Homo sapiens: one gene and its partner. The protein of the gene in region 1 purifies or fractionates together with the protein of each later gene. This does not show direct contact. Each region holds a gene or a part of one and is shown in the gene's direction. Other genes may lie near its edges.

The links.
Region 2: the proteins of OSTF1 (region 1) and GOT1 purify together in Homo sapiens (affinity purification with mass spectrometry; one large-scale study listed by BioGRID and IntAct). This does not show direct contact.

What each region holds. Positions count from the first base shown.
Region 1 is NC_000009.12:75,140,476-75,144,298, forward strand, and holds part of OSTF1 (osteoclast-stimulating factor 1), read left to right. Parts: intron 1-358; coding exon 359-457; intron 458-3,823.
Region 2 is NC_000010.11:99,406,530-99,410,352, reverse strand, and holds part of GOT1 (aspartate aminotransferase, cytoplasmic), read left to right. Parts: intron 1-3,503; coding exon 3,504-3,627; intron 3,628-3,823. UniProt on the Homo sapiens protein: Biosynthesis of L-glutamate from L-aspartate or L-cysteine. Important regulator of levels of glutamate, the major excitatory neurotransmitter of the vertebrate central nervous system. Acts as a scavenger of glutamate in brain neuroprotection.

The sequences.
Region 1 (3,823 bases):
AAGCACTATCCACTTGGTCTTTTCTAAAGACCCTCTTGAGCAAAAGAGGAAGCAAAGGGCTCATTGAAGTCAAGCCCCACAGGGACCATAAACTCCTCACTGAAAAGTTCACATGCAATTCTATAGGGACTCAAAAGGTTCGGAATTAATTGTTATCACAGGTGCAGCAACAAGCTTCCCGATTAAAGATGCCAAATTATACTGCATGAGAAAGTTTATTGTTTTGAGAACGTTTACTTCTGAGCCAGAGTTGTTCACTAGTTTATTTTGCCAAAAGTTGTTAGCTGTGGGGAGAGAGGATTGGCTACTACTATATAGTCTTCAAAGACACCTAATTGACTTTTCTTGTGTTGGGAAGGTGCTAGAACAGACTTAAGAAACATTGAGAAGAAGCTGGCCTTCGACATGGCTACCAATGCTGCCTGTGCATCTCTCCTGAAAAAGAAACAGGGAACAGGTATTTGTTTTAAATTCTTCTTTCTCCTCTGGTGCCCCATAACTAAGATTTATTAACTTAGAATGGCGCAAAAGAGATAAACTCAGCTGAGTGCAGTGGCTTATACCTGTAATCCCAGCACTTTGGGAGGCCAAGGCAGGAGGTTCACTTGAGCCCAGGAGTTGGAGACCAGCCTGAGCAATAAAGTGAGACCTCTGTCTCTACAAAAAGTACCAAAAATTAGTCAGACATTGTGGTGTGGGCCTGTAGTCCCAGCTACTCAGGAGGCTGAGCTGGGGGATCACTTGAGCCCTGGGAGGTTGAGGCTGCAGTGAGCTGTGATCGCACCACTGCATTCCAGCCTGGGTGAGAGCAAGACCATATCTCAAAAAAAGAAAACCAAAAAAAAAAAAAAAAAAAAAAAAAAAGATAAACTCTTCAGATGATTCTGAAGTTTGTTTCAATATCCTTGATCTTAATGAGAACCCCCAAAATAGGACACCCTCAATTAAACAGAAATTAGACAAGAAACATAATCTTTTACCTTTATTGTGTGTTTCTTTTATTCCTTGCAATTAAGTTCTAATCACCCTGCTTTCCATTACAGTCCTTTTCAGAGAACGATCATCTTCATTCCCTCATTTAAATATGTATTTATGAGTGATTACCACTAAATATTTTTAAAAATAACATTTAATAGCTCCATGATTATATTTTATTTCTGTTTTAAATGAGGATATCAGTAAACTGTAATCAAATTTATTCTAGACTTTGCTAAATCTTCTGGACTTTATTCATAGTATTATGGGTGGTTTTTTAAAATAGAGTTTAAATGTACATTATTATTATTTTTTTAGATGGAGTCTTACTCTGTTGCTCAGCCTGGAGTGCAGGTGTGCAATCATAGCTCACTGCAGCCTCAAACTCCTAGGCTCACGTGATCCTCCCATCTCAGCTTCCTGAGAAAATGGGACTACAGGCATGTGTCATCATGCCCAGCTAATTTTTTTTTTAATGTAGAGATAGGGGTCTTGCCATGTTGTCCAGGTTGGTCTCGAACTCATGGACTCAAGCCATCCTCCTGCCTCAGCCTCCCAAAGCACTGGGATTACAGGCGAGAGCCGCTGTGCCCAGCCTCCTTTTGTTCTTTATTCTAGATATGTCTTTGTTCCAGATTTCTTTTCTTTTTTTAACTTCAGTTTGAATATAGTGTAACTGCTAATCAGTTGGTATTCCTTAATTAATCCATGAGAGCTCACTGGGAGTGCAAGCCTTTCTTTAAAGTAATTCCTCATGGATAGATGGAGATGGGTTCTACTAAGGGAATGGGAAAGTATCAGCTGAGCTGGTGCTCCCCAGCTACATTATGATTGAGAAGCCATATTTGCAATAGTGTGAGAGACATACTTCTGCTTGAGTTCGACCTCCTACTCCTTGCTGCCTTGATTGGGTCAGGAAGTAGGAGTCTGGCCTAACTTCCTTTCTCTGCCACTGACTTCCTGTTGTGTGGCTACCCTTAGCCTGTCCTGACCGAAGAGTAAGGCTTCTTATGACCTGAAGGTATCAGAGTCTAATGCATGCTATGAGCTCCATTTTGATAGACAAGGCATATACCAAACTTTCTTAGACCTCAGAGAGCTTACCCAGAAGCCTTACTCAGGAGTGGTTTGAGTTGAGGGAGGCAGGTAATGAGCCTTTCTGCAGCCTTCGTAGAACAGGGCTGGGAGGCAGGTACTCTTTTCTCTGTGCACCCCAAGTGTGTTTAGTCTACCTTCCTGAATTTGAACTGATTAGGTAATAGATTCATTAATGAGGTAATCTTAGGGCCTGGCAGACAGAGCCAAGAAATGAGTTTTTATATTTCAATTTTCATGTTACTTTTAAAATGTTTTTTCTTGCTTCATTTCCCCAATTATACAGTTAATTTGTATTGTGATCCTCATTGGAATAGGTTTGGACTATTTGGCCATAGAGTTAATTGTCAGCATGAACTCTAAGTTGGAAAAGGTATATTCTGATATTGTTGTCCACTTTTTTTTTTTTTTTGAGACAGAGTCTCACTCTGTTGCCCAGGCTGGAGTGAAGTGACACAATCTCAGTTCACTGCAACCTCCGCCTCCCGGGCTCAAGTGATTCTCCTGCCTCAGCCTCCTGAGTAGCTGGGATTACAGGCATGAGCCACGATGCCCGGCTAATTTTTGTATTTTTATCAGAGATGGGGTTTCACCTTTTTTGTCCAGGCTGGTCTCGAACTCCTGACCTCAAGCGATCTGCCTGCCTTGGCCTCCCAAGGTAGTTGTTGTCTACTTTTAGAAGCACAATGTGGATTTTTTAATAAGTACAAAAATTCACATTTTGCAGTTACTATGGAAGATAACTAGGATATAGGGCTGGGGGTTATACTCGAGTTGAGCCCTTTAACATTTTTTTCCAACTTTTAAAAATTTGTGTATAATTTACATTAAGTAAGTACATAAATCTTAAGCATACAGCTTGATTAATTTTTTTTACACCTGTTCACCACAACCCAGATGAAGCTAGAGAACAGTTCCCACACGCCACATGCCTCCCTCAGTGTCTTCTGCTTCTCTCACCATAGATTAGTTCTGCCCGTTCGTGAACTTTATGTAAATGGAATCAAACAGTATGTACTTTTTGTGACTGACCTCTTTCATTTACATTATGTCTGTGAGAGTCATCCATATGCCTGTGTTTATTTCTCCATCATTTATTTATTGTTTGTATGTTTGTTGGTTGGTTTTAAGTGCTGGTTCTTGATTTGAGATATGTAAAGCCAGGGTGATGGGACTGAGGTAAAATGAACGTGAGCTAGGGAAGGATGGCAGTGCTGCAGGAAGATACATTCCTATGCGTGCTATGCCCAGAGGTGGGCTGTGAAGAGATACAGGCTCATCACACAACACCTGACCATGTGGGAAAACTGCCTCAGAACAGTTCATGAAAGGAAAGAAGGAGAAGGAATTTATTTGCTGACTTGTGCCTGTCTTTTGATGACCACTCAGTCAGAGTCTGCACTGTGGCAAATCATCCTCTCTTTTTAATAGAAGTAAGAATAAAATAAAGAGCAGAAGTAACCATCCAAGGACACAGAATATGGGCAAAACTTAGGATAGTGGAGTAGAAGGGGACAGAGTTTTCCTATTTGTCTCTCAGGCTTTAGCTTAGAAAGCTACATTTTACCAAGTTGACATGAAGTCCTGAAGGTCCTGGGTGTGTGTTGGGGGAGAACAAAATATATTCCTCCCACTTCTTGTGAACTCCTCTTGAGGAGAGTGGAGAAGAATAGAGTCAACCTGGAGACTTCCAGTAGCTTGAAGGCTGGTGTGAAGTCAGTGAAACATGGCCAGGTGTGGCGGCTCACACCTG
Region 2 (3,823 bases), on another chromosome or scaffold:
GTTCAAGGGAGGTCTTGCTCATTTGCTTAGGAAGTATTAGCACTCTAGAGTGGCTTAGGTATCTGCAATGTGAAGTCATGTATGAAACTGACATTCAACTTAGCTGGATGACAAATCCATAAAAAATAAATGCACATTTGTGTTATATCATCTTGGTAGCAATTTGCATAAAGAATTCAGGTAAACCACAATGTGGGGGCAAAACTTTTAAAGTAATAGCAAGGGATGAGTGCTCAGTAAGGATCACTGTAAATAACAGAGTAGTTAGCACACCAAATCTGACACACACTGAGCATTTTCACCCCAGTGCACTGCCTTTGCCCCTCTCTGTAATGTACAGCTATGTTTAGTTCTGCATCCCCTTGAATGTCAACTTTGCTTATGTTTCACATTTCAGATAGTATTCTTTCACAGATGCTCACACCTATAAATACAAACAGAACATTGGTGCATAATAGTGCCGATAATTGGTAACATTACCTTGTTGTTGGCTTAAATGGGATTTCTACTAAACGATTCACTGTTTTTAAGCTGACTTATGGGTTAAATGAATTTTTTTCAGTCATTTTCAGGAAGTATCCACTGTTTCCTGTTTTACTAAGCATTTATCTCAGGAATAGCCAAGCTTTTCTTACCTGTTGTGATGATCATTTGGGTTTTCTCTATCTAGCAGCATGATTGGTTTTATATCTCTTATAATCCATTCATGGGATGACTCTCAATCAAGGGGGTAATTTTAATGTACTGCTGGATTAATATTGTTCATTAATGTTTACTTGGGAAGTTAGTATCAAGGTACGATCTAGGTCTCTCATTCTACTTTTTTCCCTTTTGTTGTCTTTTAGCAGCAATGTTATGTTAGGTTCTTGAAAAGATTTAGGAAGCTTTTCTTCTCTAAGAAGAGTTTTAAAACTTTTTTATTGGCCAGGCGTGGTGGCTCATGCCTGTAATCCCAGTACTTTGGGAAGCCGAGGCAGGCGGATCACGAGGTCAGGAGTTGGAGAGCAGCCTGACCAACATGGTGAAACCCCATCTGTACTAAAAACACAAAAATTAGCTGGGTGTGGTGGTACGTGCCTGTAGTCCCAGCTCCTCAGGAGTCTGAGGCAGGAGAATCACTTGAACCCAGGAGGCGGAGGTTGCAGTAAGCCAAGATCGTGCCACTGCACTCCAGCCTGGGCAACAGAGCGAGACTCTGTCTCAAAAAACAAACAAAAAAAAAACACAAAAAAAACCTTTTTATTATGGAACATTTCAAATCTATATGAAAGTAGAGAAAACAGTATAAAGAATGAATCCCTGTGTATCCATCACCTAGCTTCAACAATTATCTGTATAGGGTCAATCCTGTGTATTTCCATCTACCCACTCCCTGCCTCCCTGCCTCCCTGCCCTCCACGAAAGCTGGATTATTATTTAATAGTAAATCCCAGACATCTAAATAGGTGTTTGAAATTGTAAAATTTTATGACTAATACATGAATACATTCATCTTATTTTTAAAAAAACGACTTATAGATTAGGCCAAAGTCCCTTTCAACCACTATTCCTACATCCTTGGACCCCTCCCCAGAGGTTGCCACTGTTAGAAGATTGGCGTGTGTCCCTCCTTGTATTTACTTATTTATTTATTTGAGACAGAGTCTCACTGTGTTGCCCAGGCTGGAGGGCAGTGGTGCGATCTTGGCTCACTGCAACCTCTGCCTCCCAGGTTCAAATGATTCTCACGTCTCAGCCTCCCGAGTAGCTGAGATTACAGGTGTGTGCCACCATGCCCAGCTAATTTTCTTGTATTTTTAGGAGAGACAGGGTTTCACCATGTTGGCCAGGCTGGTCTCAAACTCCTGGGCTCAAGTGATCCACCCACCTTGGCCTCCCAAAGTGCTGGGATTACAGGCGTGAGCCACTGCGCCCGGCTAGATAGACTTTTTCATGTGATCTTTTTCTTCCTTTCTCTTCAATCCTTTAGACAAATTGGGCAACATGGGGTTTATGACATTTTTCTGCTGAGAGACTTATGCTGAAACCTAATTAGAATTTTGAAGAGGCAAAATCAAAGATCTATAGGCAGAGAACTACATCATTAGAATGTAGTGACTCCATCTAGAATGGAAAACCTGGATTTGTGCTGAGCTGTGCCACTCACAACTGTGTATCCTTTGGGAAAAACATGTCTCTGAATCAGTTCCTCATGTTTCAGGGGATATAGACTTGACTTTAGAGGGCATGTGGGCATTGAGTATACATGAAAGCATTTTGTAAATGATAAAATATAGGAATAGAAAACCAAACACCTCATGTTCTCACTTAAAAGTGGGAGCTGAACAATGAGAACACGTGGACACAGGGAGGGGAACATCACACACGGGGGCCTATCGGTGGGTGGGAGGCAAGGGGAGGGAGAGCATTAGGACAAATACCTAATGCATGCGGGGCTTAAAACCTAGATGACGGGTTGATGGGTGCCACAAACCACCATGGCACATGTATAGCTATGTAACAAACCTGCACATTCTGCACACATATCCCAGAACTTAAAGTAAAATAAATAAATAAATAAATAAATAAAATATGGCTTTTATTATTGCCTATGTTAGGTCACTTTAGGATGAGAGGAAGCCAGCCAGGCGCAGTGGCTCACACCTGTAATCCCAGCAGTTTGAGAGGCCAAGGCAGGCAGATCACAAGGTCAGGAGTTCGAGACCAACCTGGCCAAAATGGTGAAACCCCGTCTCTACTAAATATACAAAAAATTAGCCGGGCATGGTGGCAGGCGCCTGTAGTCCCAGCTACTCGGGAGGCTGAGGCAGGAGAATCACTTGAACCTGGGAGGCGGAAGTTGCAGTTAGCTGAGACCATGCCACTGCACTCCAACCTAGGTGACAGAATGAGACTGTCTCAAAAAGAAAAAAAAAAAAAATGAGAGGAAGCCAAGGAGAAGAAAGTAGTACTCATGCATCACCTCTGTTTTGTTAGAACATACTTCTAAGGATTAATAAGCCTGAATTCTAGAGATGAGGAGTAGCACAGATTGATGTCAATGACAAGTTAGGAACACTGTTTTAGAGGCTTATGCTAGAGGGTAAGTTTGATCTTAGGATGGGTGCTGAAGAGATGGGTTTGCCTTCCAAGGCATGTGCGTGCATGCACACACACACACACACACACACTAATGTGGCCTCGGTGTGTCCTCTACCTCTGTGTTCAGAAGGGAAGCTTCTTCTAGTGTCAGACCTCCTGGGTTGAAGACTGGCACTCCTGCTCAGTAGCTGGTAACTTTGAGCAAGGTTCTTCACCTCTCTCAGCCTCAGTTTCCTCAGTTGTAAACATGGGCAAATCATAGTACCTTTTTCATGTAGTAGTTGTAAGGTTTTGATGAGATAATACAATTAAAAGCCTTAGCACAGAGCAGGCATAGAGTAAGTGCTCATTATTACCTTATTTTTGTAAATATTATCTGACCTCACCATTATCAGCCTGTGACCCTGTTTCTTCTCTTTCAGGTAGGAGGTGTGCAATCTTTGGGGGGAACAGGTGCACTTCGAATTGGAGCTGATTTCTTAGCGCGTTGGTACAATGGAACAAACAACAAGAACACACCTGTCTATGTGTCCTCACCAACCTGGGGTGAGTCTTTCAGCTGAAGTGAGAGGAAAAACAGAAACCAGAGAGAATTATCCTCATGACTCTCCCTGGTTACACAGAAAATGTAATCCAGCCCTAGAACAACTGACTGTTGGGAATGGCTTGAACAGTGGGTTATGGCAGTGCATGAGAAACCTGCTGCTCAAAATCAAGTTAAGAATACTCTTTCTCAAGACTC